Regions from separate parts of the Homo sapiens genome. Here region 2 is linked to region 1. Evidence: fine-mapped expression QTL. A gene starts in region 1. The other region holds a variant in brackets. All regions are shown on one strand. Distances are from middle to middle.

Region 1 (10,329 bases):
TGTACTGCAGCTTCTCTGTGTTCTCAATGTTCCCTGGGGTGGGGTCAGGAGGACAGAGCATTAGAGCATTGGAGAAAGCCCAGGGCAGGGAGGGGAGGATGTCTGAGATCATCGGGCAGCAGGCAGGTTAGGCAGCAGGACGCTGGGAAAAAAGGCATCTGGGAGGAGAAGGCTCCATTTGGGAAGAAGGGTGAGGTGAGGGTCTGAGGGGCAAAAGTGGAGAATGCAACCCTGGGTTGTCCTGAGGGAGGTGGGTGCTCAAGGGGAACTGGGTGGCCAGGGAAGCCAGGGGTGGACTCACCGTCATTGTCAATGAGGAAAGGGGTGTTGGGTGTGAGAATCTCATAGTAGCAGATCTGGCTGTACTGGGGGGAGCAGTCACCGTCAATGGCTTCCACCCGCAGGATGCGATCGTACAGCTTCCCCTCTGTCACAGCCGCACGATACAGCCGTTCCACAAACACTGGGGCAAACTCGTTCACATCGTTGACCCGCACATGCACAGTGGCCCTGCATATGCCAGAGAGAAGGAGGGATGAAGACACGTCAGCCAGCCTCGACATTATACATTGAGATACAGCCTTGATACAGCACACCGAGGTACAGCCTCGATACGGTACATCAAGATACAGCCTTGATACGGCACATGGAGGGACAGGTTCGATACCGTACACCAAGATACAGCCTCAATACTGTACACCAACAAACAGCCTCAATATGGGCACAACGAGATACAGCCTTATACTGTACACCAAGGTACAGCCTCGACACGGTACACCCATATGCCAGAAAGGAGCAAGCAGGAATCCCGACGGAGAGCCAGAACAGGAGGGAGCCTGCCCATCTATCCCTGAGACTGAGGCAGTCAGCACGCTCCTCCCCACCCCACAGGGCACCAAGCTGCATCAAAGTCATGCCAGGGAGAGGACAACACCAGAGGGAGGGCCCAAAGAAAGGAGGACTGATGTAGGGGATGAGGAACAAGGCCCAGGGGTGCTCAGGAGCTGATTTTGATGACTTCTGTGCAAAATGCTATGGGTCAGGGTGCCAAGAGGAGGGGTAAGGCATAAAATCCAGCAGGGCCTTCCTTCACAACAGTCAGATCCGGGGGGATAAGCAAGGAAGATGCAGAGTAAAAGCCAAATTAAAACCAGCCATAAGAAGGGAAATGGCATGTGTACAAAGGTCACAAGTCATCTGACATGTCTGCACAGTACGTGTGGGCAGTGCTGCCTCCCGCACATGCGGCCCCTCCCTAGTCATGCACCGGGGCAAGCAGAGCTGGGTCGAGGCCCTTCATGCTGAGCCCTGCCCCAGGCCAAGACCCAGGCTCCCAGGCCCCAGAGGCAAGGGTCCTATCTTCAAATGGGAAACTGAGTCACAAAGAGCATTTTATCTCTAGTGCCTCTTAGTGGCTCAGGAATCCTGACTGAAGATCTTTCTCTTATTCTCAAATAAGAAGTTAGCTGGCAACAAGCGTAGGTGTCCCAGACCCGAGCCTCTTTCTTGCTACAACCATCGCCTGCCCACCCTCACCTAGAGCTATATGTGTATGATAGGGATCGTGTGTGTGGTATACACTGCAAATAGACTGGAGGGGGCAGTTGAAAGGGAACTGGATGCATGCTGAGTGTGTTCATCCTCTTCCTTCTTGCTCTCCTCCTCATCATTATGCCCATGTACTGTGCCCTTCAACGTGTATCAGGCACTGTGGTGCATGCTTTCAACACAAACCATCTCCTTGAATCTTCACAGCAGCCTTATGAAGTAGGTGTCATCACAATCTCCATTCTACAGATAAGGAAAAGCAAGTCCAGAAAGGCTAGGCTGCCCAAGGTCATGAGAGGCAAAGCCAAGATTAGATCCACTGAACTCTACTATACGTTTCTGTCACCTTGCCTGAAAGTCCCTAAATCCTAGGAACAGCAGGGGATGGGGCTCCCTAAGTCCTAGGAACAGCAGCGGGTGGGGGTGGATATTCGATGACCGCACGGACAGAGGATGGTGGGCTTGGGAGCAGGGAGGAGGACCCTGCAACACATGGGGCAGGAGACAAGGACTTCCTCACTTGTGGGACTTCTTGGTGTTGGCCCCGTCGGGGCCCTCGCCACAGTCATAGGCCTGGATGGTGAAGGTGTGTTCCTTCTGGGCCTCGCAGTCCACAGGCTCCTTGGCCCGGATCAGCCCCTCTCCTGTCGCCTTGTCAAGGATCACAGCCTCAAAGGGCACCCCAGACCCATGGAGCCGGAAGCCGCAGATCTCACCTGGCAAAGGGGAGAAGGGGAGGAGTGAGGCTGCTGTGTCTCCTTCCCCACCCTCAGTCTCCCCACCTGGGGTCCAGCTCCACCTCTCCTCCCAAAGCCCTGTCCCTTCTCCTGTAGGCACAAAAGCATTAATGATCAAACACGCAACTCTAAGCCCAGCTTCCCTGAGCAGCAACCTCCCAGAGCCTCCAGACCTGAGATCTGACAAAATCATGATGTGTTTAACCCTTGCCTGGCCATGTCCTTTTCTGGCATCCTTGACTCAATCTCCATTCTTCAGTGGAGACCATTCCCCTCCTTGAGCCCACTTTTATCTTCCCTTACTTTCTCATCACTCCCAGGACCTTCCCTCCCTCCCTTGCTCTTGGCCCTCCCACCCACTTTTCTCTGTCCTACCCTGCCTTGCCATCCCCCAATCCCAATTACCTGCATAGCGCAGCGGGGCATCCTTGTCCAAGGCAAAGAGTGGTGGATTCAGTAGGACCGTGTTGTCATTCTCCATGACGATGCCCTGGTACTCTGCCTCAATCCATGGCTTGTGCTTGTTGGCTGGCCCCACCCCAGGGAGAGGAGAGGAAGCACCTGTGAGCAGGGCCTCTACTCCCACAACAACCCTTGTTGACCCAGACAACTCACACCCCAGCACCATCACCTTTTCCACCCCCTATAGGAGCACCTTACAGGAGGCGGGTGGTTGAGGACAAGAAATCAGCTACTAAAGGAGTCAGAGGGTCTGCGGGAGGTCATAGCCTTCTCCTATAGCAGGGTAGACAGTTCCCATGGAAACAACCTGCCCTGGGGGTGAAGAGGAGGGGATCACTATCTCCATGGGAACCATGGTCAGGAAGTGGAGAATGTTCTTTAGCGATTTCACGTGCTAGAGAATGGAGACAGGGAACTTCAGGGAGCAGTGGTGGGCTGTGAGAAGGCCCTGGGAAAGGGAAGGGATAGATTAAGGGCAGAATTGAAACTAGAAAAAGATCTAGAAGTTTCCTGAGATCCTGATTGCTTATCCTCCTCCCAACTCATTTCAGTCCTGATCCCTTCACTCTGCACTTCTCCCAGCCAAGCCCCAACTTGAGGCCACTCTCCCAGAACACAGGATGGGGAGAAAGGAGAGAAGTGAAGATATATAGGACAGAGGGAGGGGGCAGAGAGGGGCAGGAATGGAGCAGAGGAATCAATGCTGAGCAACTGGACCCAGCAGAGCCGTCATCCTAAGGGATTATCGGGCTGGCCTAGAAACATGACAAATCCCGTCCCTGCTTCCCACCCCCACACCCAAGAGAACACATTCGAAACCGACACATTTCTATGTCCTCCACAAGACCATCAAACCACATTCCCTGAAACCCACTTTTTATACAGAACTCAATCCCAGTTCTTATCTACCCCATCCCTCTTCCCTTCAACCACCAGCCAATTCAGAATGGATGCGGGACTCATCAGACTCCAAATCTCCCCATCTTCTACCAGATTCAGCCTGGTGAGGGGCTGTGGGGAAGCATATTTCCTCCCCTTCCACATCACCCCCCACCCCAGCCTCCACGCTTGCTCTAATCCCATCATCATGCCAACACCCAGGCTCCCAAAGCACAATCATGAGGCAGAGGGAAACTGAGTCACCAAAAGGAACCTCATCCCCAGTATCTCACGGTGAGCAAGAAACCCTGATTTCCATTCTTTCCTCCAACCACACACCAGCAAGCCTTTGGCATGGGAAGGCTTTCTTACTGATGACCACCATAACCCCTTCCTGAATGCTGAGGAGAAAGCCACAAGATGGTGCACAGGAGGCGGTACAGGAAGTGGCAGGAGGCTAGGAGGCGAGGCTGAGGTCAGAGATGCAGGCAAGGAAGAGAGAGCGGTGGAAGGGCAGGGCTGGGCGCCCTCTGCACAGCTCCCCCTCCCACCCTGCTTGTCTTCCCAGGTCTCTGAGCCTCTGTCTCCTCTCCTCCTGGCCCCCTGCGGTCTCTGCGTTTGCTCCCTTTCACTCCTAGGCTCCCGGGCTCCTCCTTGACTCACTCTTTTCCTGATTTTCCTCATTCCTCCCTCTTTTTTCTGCCTCCACCTTTACCCTTTTCCATCCCCTCCTTACCCCCTCCCACGCCTCATCTCCGGTCTTCTCCTTCTCAGCTTTCCCTCTCATACTCATTTAGCGCCCCCCACACACCCACTTCTGCCCTTTCCTGCCAGTCTCCATCCGTTTCCACCTACCTGAGCCCTCTGCCCGCAAGCCCTCCCTCCCGTCCTCCCTCTCCGTCTGTCCGACAGCCCCGCCCAGCTGAATGTATCCGCTGTCTGCCAGAGAGGGCAGCTCTGGTAACCCACAGCCCAGCTGATGCAGGCAAAAGGGTCTGAATGCAGAGGCACACGCAAAAAACATACGTGCTCCGAATTGCTGAACTGCAGCAAATACTTTCTCCCCAGGATGGGATGGAGGCGAAGCAGATGGATCTGCCACACACCCTTAGCATGCGCCAGTGAAAGGGAGAGCCGCGGGGAGAGGCCTATCACCGGCTCGGGGGCAGTCCTTCCCAGACCCGAGGTAGCCACCAGCGTGTAGAAATTAGGGGAAGGGGAGAATAGAGACCCCAGGACGGGAATGGAGACCAAATGGGAGCAAGATGACCAGCAAGAGAAACGCATGGGTAGAGATGGACCAGAAAGGAAGATGTAGCTGGGGGAAGAGAAAGAGAGGAGACGGAGCAGGTCTGAGAACGGATGGGAAGGAGGGTGATCAGAAGAGGGCCAGACACCTGTCAGGTGCCAGGGAGCCTCGACACCTCCTTCCCACCCCCACCCCGCACGGCGCTGCCCGACGCCCCTCTTTCGGTACCCCCACCCCCACCTCACTCACCTTTGTTACAGGAGCAGGACGCGAGCAGAGAGGCCAGCAGAAGGGGCAGCAGCAGGAGGGTCATGGTGCGGCGTGGGGCAGGGCAGGGCCAGGCGTTTGCCTCCCCTGGGAGCCTCCAGCCTGCGGATTCCACCTTGCGGGAGGGATACAGGGGGTCTCCAAGGAGCGGGGTACAGCAGGGCAGGGACGGAAAGGAGCCTGCCGCCCACACTAGTCCATAAAGCGGGCCTGGGCAGATCCCAATCTGGGTAGCTGAGGCGGTGGACTTGCAGCGGCTTCCCGTTTCCCCCAGCCCAGCGTCCTCACTCTCTCACTCCCACCCCAACCCCGCTACTGCAGGATGACGTCAGCACAGCCGGGCAACGATTGATGGGGCCGCCGGCCAATCAGGTGACTGGGAGGGGGGGGGACCAGGTGCTGCAGCGGGGGAGGGAGCCAATGAGACTGGGGCGTCGGGGCTGGAGAGTTTCAAGGCTCCTTCCCCTGGCTGCAATTTTGGGGGAGCCGAGGAACTGCGGGGGCTGGGGAGGAAGCTGGAGAGCCACGGAGGGGGTGGGAAAGAAGAGGGACGTGGGGAGAAAGAAGCCAGAAGCCAGGGGGTGGGGAAGAGAGACGTCAGCGGGACCTGAGGGCGGCCAGGAGGGGTGGCACCGCGTCACCCCGCCCCCCAACTCTGCCATAACCTGTTTCCACAGCCCCTTCCATCCACAGATCCGTGCTGCGTGCCCTCTGGGAAGGGTGAAGTAAAACCCTCAGTCTGAGCCTGAGAAATCCTGGCATTTGTAGCCCAGGGCTGCGAGGAAGCCACAGGGCGGTCCGCAGGGCGGTATCGAGGCTCTGGGACCCAAGGAGGGGCAGGACGTCGTGCACCCCTCGCGCACGCACCTGTCGGGACCGGCCGCCTCCTCCTGCCTACCTGTCCTGCCTCCTTCGCCCCGAATTTCACCTTAAACCATGATGAACCAAGCCCAGTGGATTCTGAAGCCCGGGACGATGGCAGGTTCGAGAGAGAATTGGGCAGCTGGGGGCGGGGCACAATATTATTTAGGCGCCTCCACCCCACCTTCACAGAAATACATCTGGAAAGCATGGGCTGTCCTAGGGCTGGGGACTGGGGGTTACGGTCTCATCGATGACTCAGAGGGAGAGAAAACCCCCTGGGTCCCAAGCCAAAAAGAATAAAATTCTCCAGAATAGCCAACAAACTCCTCTCAGGCTGTCTGTTCCGGACTTTGAACTCAGCACCCCTCGGGCTCCACCTCCCTCCTAATGGCTCTTTAGGACCAAGAGTCTGGAATGCCACTTTGGGGTCCCAGTTGAGCACACTACCTGAGGGAGCTCTGAGAGCCAGGCCTACAGGGTGCTCTTCATGGTGGCAGCTGGCCATCCTCACCCCCTCCCCTCACATCTTCCAACATCACTCAGTCCCAGGATCTCAGGATATTGTTGGAACTCATCTCCACCTCACACAGCCAGACCAGCCTCAGGTGTCTCCCAGGAAAGACTGCCCCTCAGGCCCTGGGACGGTTCCCAAGCCTGCCAGAAATGAGGTGGAGGCCAACACTGACCTTTGGATGGCTGAGTTTTGGATGACTGACAGCCCCAGATCCTGCTCCAGGTTCCTTCCTCAGGAAGGATCCTGCTCCAGGTTCCTTCCTCAGGAAAAGCCAAGGTCAGGCGCAACTTTGCCAAATCCCTGCCCCTCCTTCAGGCTGGAGACACCACCCCCAAACTCACCATGCGGGGAGGGAAGAAGTCTGGTAGGGACTCTTATTGCAACAGGGCCCCAGCCTTATAAAAAGCCCTGGTAACCCGGCCATTACACATCCTGTCTCTGTGTGTGGAGCTGGCTGGAATCTCTCAGCCTCACCTGCCAGACAACACCCCCTCCTTCCTCACCCTGTCTCCTGCATTCTCCTGAAACCTTCATCCACACAATGCCTCCCAACCTCACTGGCTACTACCGCTTTGTCTCGCAGAAGAACATGGAGGACTACCTGCAAGCCCTAAGTAATGGCCTCGCCCTCCCAGACCCCTGTCACTCCCTTTCTCCCCTCTTCCTTCCTGCTTCTTGGTCCCATGGAGAAGAGGGAATGCCCGGGGTTGGACACTGTGGAAAGGCTCAGGCGGCTGGCACCAGACCTGGGATCCATTTCTAACCAGGCATTGGTAGGAGGGGGTGAATCCACAGTCCCAGACCCAAAGAAGGGAAACTCACAGCCCTGAGGGGCTGCTGCAGGCAGAGGAGCTCCTGGCTGGCTAGCAGCACCCCTACTAACAGGCAGCCCCCACAGACATCAGCTTGGCTGTGCGGAAGATCGCGCTGCTGCTGAAGCCGGACAAGGAGATCGAACACCAGGGCAACCACATGACGGTGAGGACGCTCAGCACCTTCCGAAACTACACTGTGCAGTTTGATGTGGGAGTGGAGTTTGAGGAGGACCTCAGGAGCGTGGACGGACGAAAATGCCAGGTACATTTCCCCTGGCTGGGCGGTGGCCGGAAGGAGGCATCACAGGAGACTCCTAACAACATGGGGCAAAACAAAGTGACCTTCCCCAGCCAGAGCAGCGGGGAGGAGGGGAATGGTCACCACAGCAGGGAATGCAGTCCCCAGGATACCAGTCTCCAGAACTAACAGGTCCTGGTGCTCCCTGTCTCTCTCCCACTTCTTCCCTGCCCCCTCTTATCACCAGCCCAAAGGGCAAAGAACAGGCCAACCCAGACCGAAGAGCAAACATTTGCCCACCCTCCAGCCTGTGACACTGTTGGTCACCCAGAGTCCCTTTTACTTTAGCATCAATAACTTCACTCTCCTGCATTTCTTTCTACTTCTTACATATTCCTTCTTAGCCTCCTTTGCAGATCCTAGTCCTCCTATTAATCCTTTAAACTGGAGTTTTCTCCGCAGAGTTTTGTTCTTAATGTCTTCTCCCTTTTGTCTGCCCACTATCCATAGGCTAAATCATCTACACCCATGCCTTCTGCTTCCATCTATAGGCTGCCCTTGGCATGAATTCTCCAGCCAGAGCCATCTCCTGAGCTCCAGGGCAATGTTTTCAACTGCCTACAAAATACAGTTGGCCCTCCATATTCATGGGTTCTGCATCCACAGCTTCAGCAAACTGCAAATGGAAAAATATTTGGGAAAAATAAAAATAAAAAATAACAATACAAAATGATACAAATAAAAAACAATACAGTATAGCAACTATTTACAGAGCATGTACATTGCATTAGGTATTATAAGTAATCTAGAGATGATTTAAAGCATATGGGAAAAGGCTGGGCGTGGTGGCTCACACCCATAATCCCAAGACTTTGGGAGGCTGAGGCAGGCAGATCACTTGAGGCCAGGAGTTCAAGACCAGCCTGGCCAACATGGTGAAACCTCATCTCTACTAAAAATACATAAATTAGGCCAGGTGCAGTGGCTCACACCTGTAATCCCAGTACTTTGGGAGGCCAAGGCGGGCGGATCACCTGAGGTCAAGAGTTCGAGACCAGCCTGACCAACATGGAGAAACCCCATCTCTACTAAAAATACAAAAAATTAGGCAGGCATGGTGGCGCATGCCTGTAATCCCAGCTACTCAGGAGGCTGAGGCAGAAGAATCACTTGAACCTGGGAGGCAGAGGTTGCAGTGAGCCAAGATCGCACCACTGCACTCCAGCCTGGGCAACAAGAGCGAAATTCTATCTCAAAAAAAAAAAAAAAAAAAAATACAAAAGTACAAAAATTAGCCGGGCATGGTGGCGCATGCCTGTAATCCCAGCTACTTGGGAGGCTGAGGCAGGAGAATTACTTGAACCCGGGAGCCAGAGGTTGCAGTGAGCCAAGATCATGCCATTGCATTCTAGTCTGGGTGACAGAGCAAGACTCTGTATCAAAATGATAATAATAAAGTACACAGGGGGATGTATGTAGTTTCTCTACAGATACTAAGCCATTTTATTCAGCAGATTTAGTGAGGTGGGGGTCCTGGAACCAATTTCCATTTGAATGCCAAGGTCAAATTCAAATTCACTGTCTTCCTATCCAAACCTACCCCACTTTTATATCTACTCTCTCCACTAATGGCAATAACCAGCCAGGCCAGAGACCTGGGAGTCATGGTCAATATCTCTTGTTTCCTTACCTCTAGGCTCCCAGCACACACACACACACACACACACACACACACACACACACACACACACACCACCACCACCACCACCACCACATCTAATCGGCCAAGAAATCTTTGTAGCTTTTCTGCATTACCCAGTATAGCAGCTGCTAACTTCAGATGGCCGTTGAATACTTGAAATATAACTAGTCCAAATCTAGATGCTGTAAGTGGACTTTCAGACAATGCCAAATAAAAAGAAGCATTTCGGAAATGTTTATATTGGCTGCATGCCGAAATAATAATATTTTGAATATTTTTGGTTAACTAAAATATATTATTTAAATTAATTTCCCCTATTTCTCTTTACTTTTCTAATATGGCTCCTGACCCATTTTATTTCTGTTGAGCATCACTCTTCTAAATGGCTCTCCTGTGTTCCCTCCTAACCTTTCTCTATCACCACCCTAATTCAGGCCTTCATTTCCTGGTGCCTGAAATTGCTTTTTTGTGTTTTTGTGTTTTTTTTTTTTTGGTAGAGGTGGGGTCTCACTGTGTTGCCCAGGCTGGTCTCAAACTCTTGACTTCAAGTGATTCTCCCGCCTCAGCCTCCCAAATGCTGAGATTACGGGCCTAAGCCACTGCACCCAGCTGGTTCTCACGCTTAACCCTCCTCTAATCTGCATGCTGTAGCCACAGGGTCTACTTAAAACATAAATGTGATCATGTCACTCTCTGACTTACACCCTTTCAGTGATGATCTATTACATTACATCATCTGTTACACTTAACTCAGCATACAAGGGTCTCTGTGAATCAACTCTTCAATTGCCTCCACCACATATACTCTAGGTTAGAGCCCTTCAGAACTAATTGCCTTTCTCTTTTACCGCTATTTCTAGCTGTTTCTTTCCTTGCTAGAAATTTCCCATTCTCTCCAATCTAATTAACTCCCAACTTCCTTAAAGATTTCACTCTGCCCGCCCCACTGCCATCCCTCACTCTTGCCTGGTGTCACAGTTACCTATTTACTGATCCTCTATCTCTTCAAGACTCTGAGCTCCTTGTTTGGGGCCTATCCTAAAGGAGAACTCAA
Region 2 (8,000 bases), 35 kb after region 1:
AGACAACCCTGCCAAGGTCCAGAACCACTGCCAGGAGCCCTATTATCAGGCCGCGGCAGCAGGTGAGTCCCCACCTGCCGAGGGGTGGCTTCCATCCACCTCATTCCCACCCAAATGCCTGACACCCTCTGAGCACCTGCTTCGTTAACCAACAGCTTCAACTCCGAGCCTATTTCTTTGCCTCTCCTCATTTACGCCACAGGGGCACTCACCTGTGCAACCCCAGGGACCTGGAAAGACAGACAGGATGGGGAGGAGGTTCTTCAGTGTATGCCTGGTGAGTAGCCACCTGCTAGCACCATTCCCCCAACAAGCCTCAGCTGCAACTGGGACCTACAGGACACAGGGGTTAAAGGAAAGCCTTAGAATAGAAAGGAAGATAAGAAGCAGAAGGTGAGGAAGAACAGGGCAATCAAGAAGGCCCAGAAAAGAACAGGCAGGGAGCTTGTTCCTCATTCTTCAGGGGTCAAGATATATCTGAGGAAAAGCATGAAGGACGTTCATGAGATGGACTAGAAAAGGAGGAAGAGAGACCAACAAGCTGAAGTAACAGAAAACCCTCTTTTTGTGCCATACATTTTAAGGATATACCGACAGGCTCTCTATTCCTAAAATATCTCCCTACCTAGATGCCACACAGTGCCAGACAGTCAACCATTTTAAAAAAAATTATTGAGATAAAATTCATGGCTGGGCGCAGTGGCTCACTTTTTTTTTTTTTTTTTTTTTTTTTTTTTGGGATGGAGTTTCTCTCTTGTCGCCCAGACTGAAGTGCAACGGCACAATCTTGGTTCACTGCAACCTCCATCTCCTGGGTTCAAGCGATTCTCCTGCCTCAGCCTCCTGAGTAGCTGGGATTACAGGCACCTGCCACTATGCCCAGCTCATTTTTTTATTTTATTTTATTTTTTTTTTTTTTTTGTATTTTTAGTAGAGACAGGGTTTCACCACGTTGGTCAGGCTGGTCTTGAACTCCTGACCTCAGGTGATCGTCCCGCCTCAGCCTCCCAAAGTGCTGGGATTACAGGCTTGGGCCACTGCGCCCAGCCTTAACCACTTTAAACAGTACAATCCAGTAATGTTTAGTGTGTTCACAATGTTGTGAAACCATTACCACTAATTCCAGAACATTTCCATTACCTTCCCCAAAACAGCCCAGTACCTCCAACTCTCCCCTGACAACCACTAATCTTCTATCTCTATGGATTTGCCTTTATGGATTTTATATCAGTGGAATCATATAATGTGTGGCCATTTCTGTCTGGCTTCTTTCAGTTAGCGTAATGTTTTCAAGGTTCATTCCTGTTATAGCATCCATCAGTATTTCATTTTTATGGCTAAATAATACTCCTTTCTATGGATACGCCATTTTGTTTATTCATTCAACTGATGGACATTTGGGTTGTCTCTATTTCTTGCCTATTATGAATGATGCTGCTATGAGCATTTGTGTACAAGTTTTTATATCAACGTACGTTTCTAAATCTCCTGGGTATATACCTAGCAGTAGACTTGCTGGATTGTATAATAATTCTGTTTAACTTTTTGAGGAACCACCAAACTGTCTTCAACAGCAGCAGCACCAAGTTACATCTCACCGGCAATACATGAGGGTTCAAGCCCACCATTTTTGAGATCCACGCTTTTGAATGAAAGCATTGCCTTCTTTTGTTTTGTTTGTTTGTTTGTTTTGAGACAGAGTCTCGCTCTGTCGCCCAGGCTGGAGTGCAGTGGCGCGATCTCGGTTCACTGCAAGCTCCGCCTCCCGGGTTCAAGCCATTCTCCTGCCTCAGCCTCCCGAATAGCTGGGACTACAGGCGCCCGCCACCACGGCCGGCTAATTTTTTTTTGTATTTTTTAGTAGAGACGGGGTTTCACCGGGTTAGCCAGGATGGTCTCGATCTCCTGACCTCGTGATCCGCCCATCTCGGCCTCCCAGAGTGCTGGGATTACAGGCGTGAGCCACCGCGCCCGGCCGAAAGCATTGCCTTCTTAACCCAATCTGATCCACGGAAAACTCTAAGGGTAGCCTGAACACTCGCAGTGCTTTGGGGATGGTTTGGAGGGCAGGTGGTAGTGGGAGATGTTACAAATGAGGAAGTGACACAAAACTGAGGCAGGAGGCACTGAAACAGACTCTGCCTGTAGTATGGGGGCCCAGGATGGTCCAAACGAATGGCTTTAATGCCTCTGAGGAGGCAGGAAGGAGAGCCCTGCAGAACCAGCCCCAAACATGTGCTCATCTGTGCTCCCTACCCTCAGTCCACTGTCCTGAGTCCCATGCAGGATGGGTGCCCCGTACACTTGGCATTGATTACCTGTCCTTGTCTGCCCACATGGTCTACACCGTGGGTCTGCATCAGTATAAGAGTCCTGATCCCGGCCAGGCGCGGTGCCTCACGCCTGTAATCCCAGCACTTTGGGAGGCAGAGGCGGGTGGAACACTGAGGTCAGGAGTTTCAGACCAGCCTGGCCCACATGATGAAACCCCGTCTCTACTAAAAAATACACAAAAATTAGCCGGGCGTAGTGGTCGGTGCCTGTAATCCCAGCTACTCGGGAGGCTGAGGCAGAATTGCTTGAGCGCAGGAGGCGGAGGTTGCAGTGAGCCGAGATCGCGCAAGTACGCTCCAGTCTGGGCAACAAGAGCGAAACTCGATATCAAAAAAAAAAAAAAAACGTCCTGATCCCAGAGTCTCTTCACGCGTCCCCTACCACAGCACTTCAGAGAAGCAGGTCTTTAATCAGTGTGTCTAGATGCAGCTGCTGACTGTCACCCCTACCCCGCCTCTCTCCCAGTCTGCGGACGGCCAGTCACCCCCATTGCCCAGAATCAGACGACCCTCGGTTCTTCCAGAGCCAAGCTGGGCAACTTCCCCTGGCAAGCCTTCACCAGTATCCACGGCCGTGGGGGCGGGGCCCTGCTGGGGGACAGATGGATCCTCACTGCTGCCCACACCATCTACCCCAAGGACAGTGTTTCTCTCAGGAAGAACCAGAGTGTGAATGTGTTCTTGGGCCACACAGCCATAGATGAGATGCTGAAACTGGGGAACCACCCTGTCCACCGTGTCGTTGTGCACCCCGACTACCGTCAGAATGAGTCCCATAACTTTAGCGGGGACATCGCCCTCCTGGAGCTGCAGCACAGCATCCCCCTGGGCCCCAACGTCCTCCCGGTCTGTCTGCCCGATAATGAGACCCTCTACCGCAGCGGCTTGTTGGGCTACGTCAGTGGGTTTGGCATGGAGATGGGCTGGCTAACTACTGAGCTGAAGTACTCGAGGCTGCCTGTAGCTCCCAGGGAGGCCTGCAACGCCTGGCTCCAAAAGAGACAGAGACCCGAGGTGTTTTCTGACAATATGTTCTGTGTTGGGGATGAGACGCAAAGGCACAGTGTCTGCCAGGGGGACAGTGGCAGCGTCTATGTGGTATGGGACAATCATGCCCATCACTGGGTGGCCACGGGCATTGTGTCCTGGGGCATAGGGTGTGGCGAAGGGTATGACTTCTACACCAAGGTGCTCAGCTATGTGGACTGGATCAAGGGAGTGATGAATGGCAAGAATTGACCCTGGGGGCTTGAACAGGGACTGACCAGCACAGTGGAGGCCCCAGGCAACAGAGGGCCTGGAGTGAGGACTGAACACTGGGGTAGGGGTTGGGGGTGGGGGGTTGGGGGAGGCAGGGAAATCCTATTCACATCACTGTTGCACCAAGCCACTGCAAGAGAAACCCCCACCCGGCAAGCCCGCCCCATCCCAGACAGGAAGCAGAGTCCCACAGACCGCTCCTCCTCACCCTCTACCTCCCTGTGCTCATGCACTAGGCCCCGGGAAGCCTGTACATCTCAACAACTTTCGCCTTGAATGTCCTTAGAACCGCCTTCCCCTACTTCATCTGTTGACACAGCTTTTATACTCACCTGTGGAAGAGTCAGCTACTCACCCGCTATTAGAGTATGGAGGAAGGGGTTTTCATTGCATTGCATTTCTGAAACATTCCTAAGACCCTTTAGTTGACCTTCAAATATTCAAGCTATTCTGCAGCTCCAAGATGCAATTATAGAAACAGCTCCTTTTTTATTTTATGTCCTCTATATGCCAGGTGCTTCACCTGTTATTTCACTTAATCCTCATACCATATTTGCAAAGGATGTGTTATTATCTATGTGTGACAAATGAGGAAACTGAGGCTCAGGGGATAAAGGGACTTGCCCAAGTCCCACAGCTGGTGTGTGACTGCAGAGACTGTGCTCTTCCCAGTGTGCTGCAATACTTCTCAACCCTCCTCTAACCTGCTGTGTCACCCGCTTTCCCTCCCAGCCCCCACATCCTTACCATTTTCCCTCCCTGGGAATTCCTGCTTCTGCGAAAATGGTATCCTCTAGCTCACACTTTCCTAATGGCCCCATCTCCTGCAGAAGCCAGGTGAGCCCAGCACTGGACTGAAGTTCTTGCAGACACCCCACCTGTGCCCCTATCATCAGGGGAACTGCTCCACCTGAGAGGACCAACTCTTTAATTTTTAGTAAAACCTGGAGGTGATGGGCCGGGCGCAGTGGCTCACGCCTGTAATCCCAACACCTTAGGAGTCCGAGGTGGGTGGATCACGAGGTCAGGAGATCCAGCCCATCCTGGCCAACATGGTGAAACCCCATCTCTACTAAAAATACAAAAATTAGCCGGGCGTGGTGACACGTGCCTGTAGTCCCAGCTACTCGGGAGGCTGAGGCAGGAGAATCACTTGAACCTGGGAGGCGGAGGTTGCAGTGAGCTAAGATCACGCCACTGCACTCCAGCCTGCGGACAGACCAAGACTTCATCCCCCCCAAAAAAAAAA[G/AG]ATTGGAGGTGATTTACAGTGAAAGACACAAATAAAATACAACTGTTCAATGGAAATAGAAAATAAACACCATAAAAGAGAGAAGAGAGGTAATTTGTTAGCATCAAGAGTCAAGTTGCTATATGGTCAAAGGTTAAATTTATCTCTAAAAAATGGCAGGATTCAAAGTTGTACATACATGTGATTACTTCTGTTTTTTACACCCACATACAGTACAAAAGATTATTAAAAATATTCCCAAAAGGCAGGTGCAATGATGCACACTTATACCCCCAGCCACTCAGGAGGCTGATGCAAGAGGATCGCTTGAGCCCAGGAGTTGAAGTCCAGCCTAAGCAACATAGTGAAACCCCATCGCCAAAAATATAATAATAATTCTCTCAAAATACTAAACAGAGGTGGTTTTATTGATAAGATTTTGGCTGTTTGGTTTTCCACTATTCTCTATTGGCTAAAATTTGTTTAATGAGCATGAAATGTTTTTATTTTATTTTGCTTATTTTTATGATTGCAAAAAATGATATGAGTTTCTCCCTGCCAAGGCAAAAAAATATATATATACCTATATTTATATGTGTATGTCTAGATCTATATCTCTACATCTCCATCGCTGTCTCTGTCTAGAGATAGAGATATCGACAATGAGAGAGAGAGGGAGGTAAGAGATAGAGATGATGGAGATAGATGAGCTAGCGATAGAGACATATCCACAGAGGAAAACCTACCACTACTTTAAGAGAGAAATCTTTTTCCCAAGAATCAAATCCTTAAAGGAACAAACACTGTAACCGACTATATCCTCAATAATTGTTTTAAAACAAACGCAGCAGCATTTCATATGGCATTTTTTTCCTTCTTGGTATGAGTCAAGGACAAAACAAAGTCAAGGACATAACAAAAATGTGTGAGTAAAGGTTATTTTGAATGGTTGGGCAGAGTGGAGACAGGGCTGGGACTGAGCTAATGACATCCAGGTTTGCCGCTCTCCAAGCGTGTTGCACAATGCCAACGCAGAACTGAGAATCCCTAGGATGGACGGAAGAGCTTCAGCTAAGACTTACCTCCTTACCTGTTCCCTCTGCCTCCATTATGAACATACGGCACATGCGCGCGTGCACACACACACACACACACAAACTGCTGCTAGGATATTAATGTGCAGTTTGTTAGACGAGATTCCCCTTCCTTCTCGTCCTCTGATCTGGTGCTTTTCCTTCTCCCCCATCTTTTGTCTTTCCTGATCTAACAAGGCTGTGGATCATATGCTGATCCCATCACAGACCAGCCCTCCGTTAGGTTCAGTCCTCAGCTCTGACACACAGGCCTGCTGGAGAAACCCTCCAAGCGTTGGTGGATCTTGCACCTTCTGTGTGCCTGCTGTCTAACTACTGATGATGTGGTCACTGCCTGATGGGGAACTGCATCAGCTCTGTGAATTCTTGCAATCTATTGCCTGGGAAAGTGTCTTGCACATTAAACAGGTAGCCCATAAATGGATGAACGGGGGTGGGGGCAGAAGGGTGGAGGTTGGAGGGATTCATCTAATAAGGGAAACAAGCAGAACAGCCTACAAAGGCTTAAGAACGCAGAGTCCTGCTCTGCAGCCCAAGCCCCTCCGTGGGATGAAGTGCCATCAGATATTTGGTGCCATGGAGAGTTGATGAAGAAAGCCTTCCAAAAACAATGAAATTGTTTTTTAATTTATTTTAACTTTTAGAGACGAGATCTCACTATGTTGCCCAGGCTGGTTTCGAACTCCTGGGCTCAAGAGATCTTCCCACCCTGGCCTCGAAAAGTGCTGGCATCACAGGCATGAGCCACCACACGTGGCCAAGAGCAAAAGTTTTAAAGCAGGACACTATGGCCTGATGGACAGGAGAGACTAGGGTCCCTCCTCCCTCCCAGGGGCCTGGCTTCATCTCAGAAAAACCGAGTCCCTCTTGCTCCACACCCGCATCCTTAGCTTCAGCCCTGGCAGTTGTGTTGAGCAGATGCTAAGGAGATGGGGACATTTTACCCCCTCCGCAGCCGCCCCAGAGGGTCTCAAACCCAGGGCTGATTTAGGGTTGCCCTGACATGGCCAACCCTATTCTATGTCCAAGTGTCATTCATGGCTAAAGCAGGCCAGGGCCCCAAGGCAACCAAGCTCCTCTCTCCTCTGCCCGCTCCCACACACCCTCCTCTGCCCCAGTGTTCCTATCATTACGTCCTGGGCATTGAAACCCGGGCCATTCTTGGACCAGGGCTGTGGGCTGAATGAGGGCAGGAAGAACAGGGTCAATGGGAAAGGACAGCCCAGAAAAGAGAATTCACCACCACCTGTGGTCTCCCACTGCTTTGGTAGGAACCTTGTAAACACAGCAGCAGCCCCCAGGAAAGTCTTGGAAGAAGGGAGAAGCTGATCAGATTTAGAGACTGAGACATCTGGGCCTCCAACCCAAGGCTCCCCGGGCCCTAAAAAGCCAGACTCCCGTCTCCTTAGCCCTTTCCCTCACCGACCAGCAGGTGGCACCACAAACAGGGATTTCAAAACCAAAACTAAATTAAAGTGGAAACTCAGATCTTTTGTTTATGCAAATAGTTCATTCCCTCCAACATTCCTCCGGGAATGGTCCCCCCTCCACTCCACAGAAAACCCTCCCCTCCCTGCTGTGCATGACGCGGGCTCCCTCTGCACACAGTGCACGAAGACGCTGTCGGGAGAGCCCAGGATTCAACACGGGCCTTGAGAAATGTGAGTAAGGGTGATGGGCAACCAGGTGGGAGGGAGAAGCCAGGGGAGAAGCCAGGGCATGGGAGGCAATTCAGGGAGACAGGAACACCCTTCTCTCTTCACACACCTCATCAGTTCCACTGTGCACACGCGTGGACACACACAACACACGCCCCATCCCTCCTCCTAGGGATCAGAGGAGACTTCATACATAGATGCTCATGCCATGGTCCTTTCTTCCCTCTGGGCTCTTGGCAGGGAGCAGCGAGAGGAGGGGACCCCTTGCCCAGGACGGGACACTCTGTGCCTGTGTCCCCCACTCCACAGATGGTTTCTCCCAGACGCTCTTGCTGAACCTGTGGGAGCCCTTTCAGAGACCCACGGGTGGAAACCCTCACCCTCCATTAACTGGTCCCAAGCCAGTCCTATTCCTGGAAGGGGAGGG

Evidence for each region.
Region 2: its variant is fine-mapped to the expression of CLSTN3 in whole blood (TOPMed, PIP above 0.99).

Annotation. Positions count from the first base shown.
Region 1 is chr12:7,125,508-7,135,836 of GRCh38, reverse strand. CLSTN3 (calsyntenin 3) reads right to left here and starts at 5,466. Exons shown (of 18, transcript NM_014718.4): 1 at 5,125-5,466; 2 at 2,691-2,813; 3 at 2,069-2,264; 4 at 302-510; 5 at 1-33. The coding sequence starts at 5,188. RBP5 (retinol binding protein 5) reads left to right here and starts at 6,948. Exons shown (of 4, transcript NM_031491.4): 1 at 6,948-7,134; 2 at 7,419-7,597. The coding sequence starts at 7,062. RefSeq lists silencers at 4,450-4,519, 5,610-5,709 and an enhancer at 4,667-5,168.
Region 2 is chr12:7,091,963-7,099,962 of GRCh38, reverse strand. C1R (complement C1r) reads left to right here and starts at 7,518. Exons shown (of 11, transcript NM_001733.7): 1 at 7,518-7,576. The coding sequence starts at 7,575. C1RL (complement C1r subcomponent like) reads left to right here. Exons shown (of 6, transcript NM_016546.4): 4 at 1-62; 5 at 203-277; 6 at 2,800-5,409. The coding sequence ends at 3,572. RefSeq lists an enhancer at 7,176-7,470. The variant G/AG (reference allele first, on the strand shown) is at 4,843.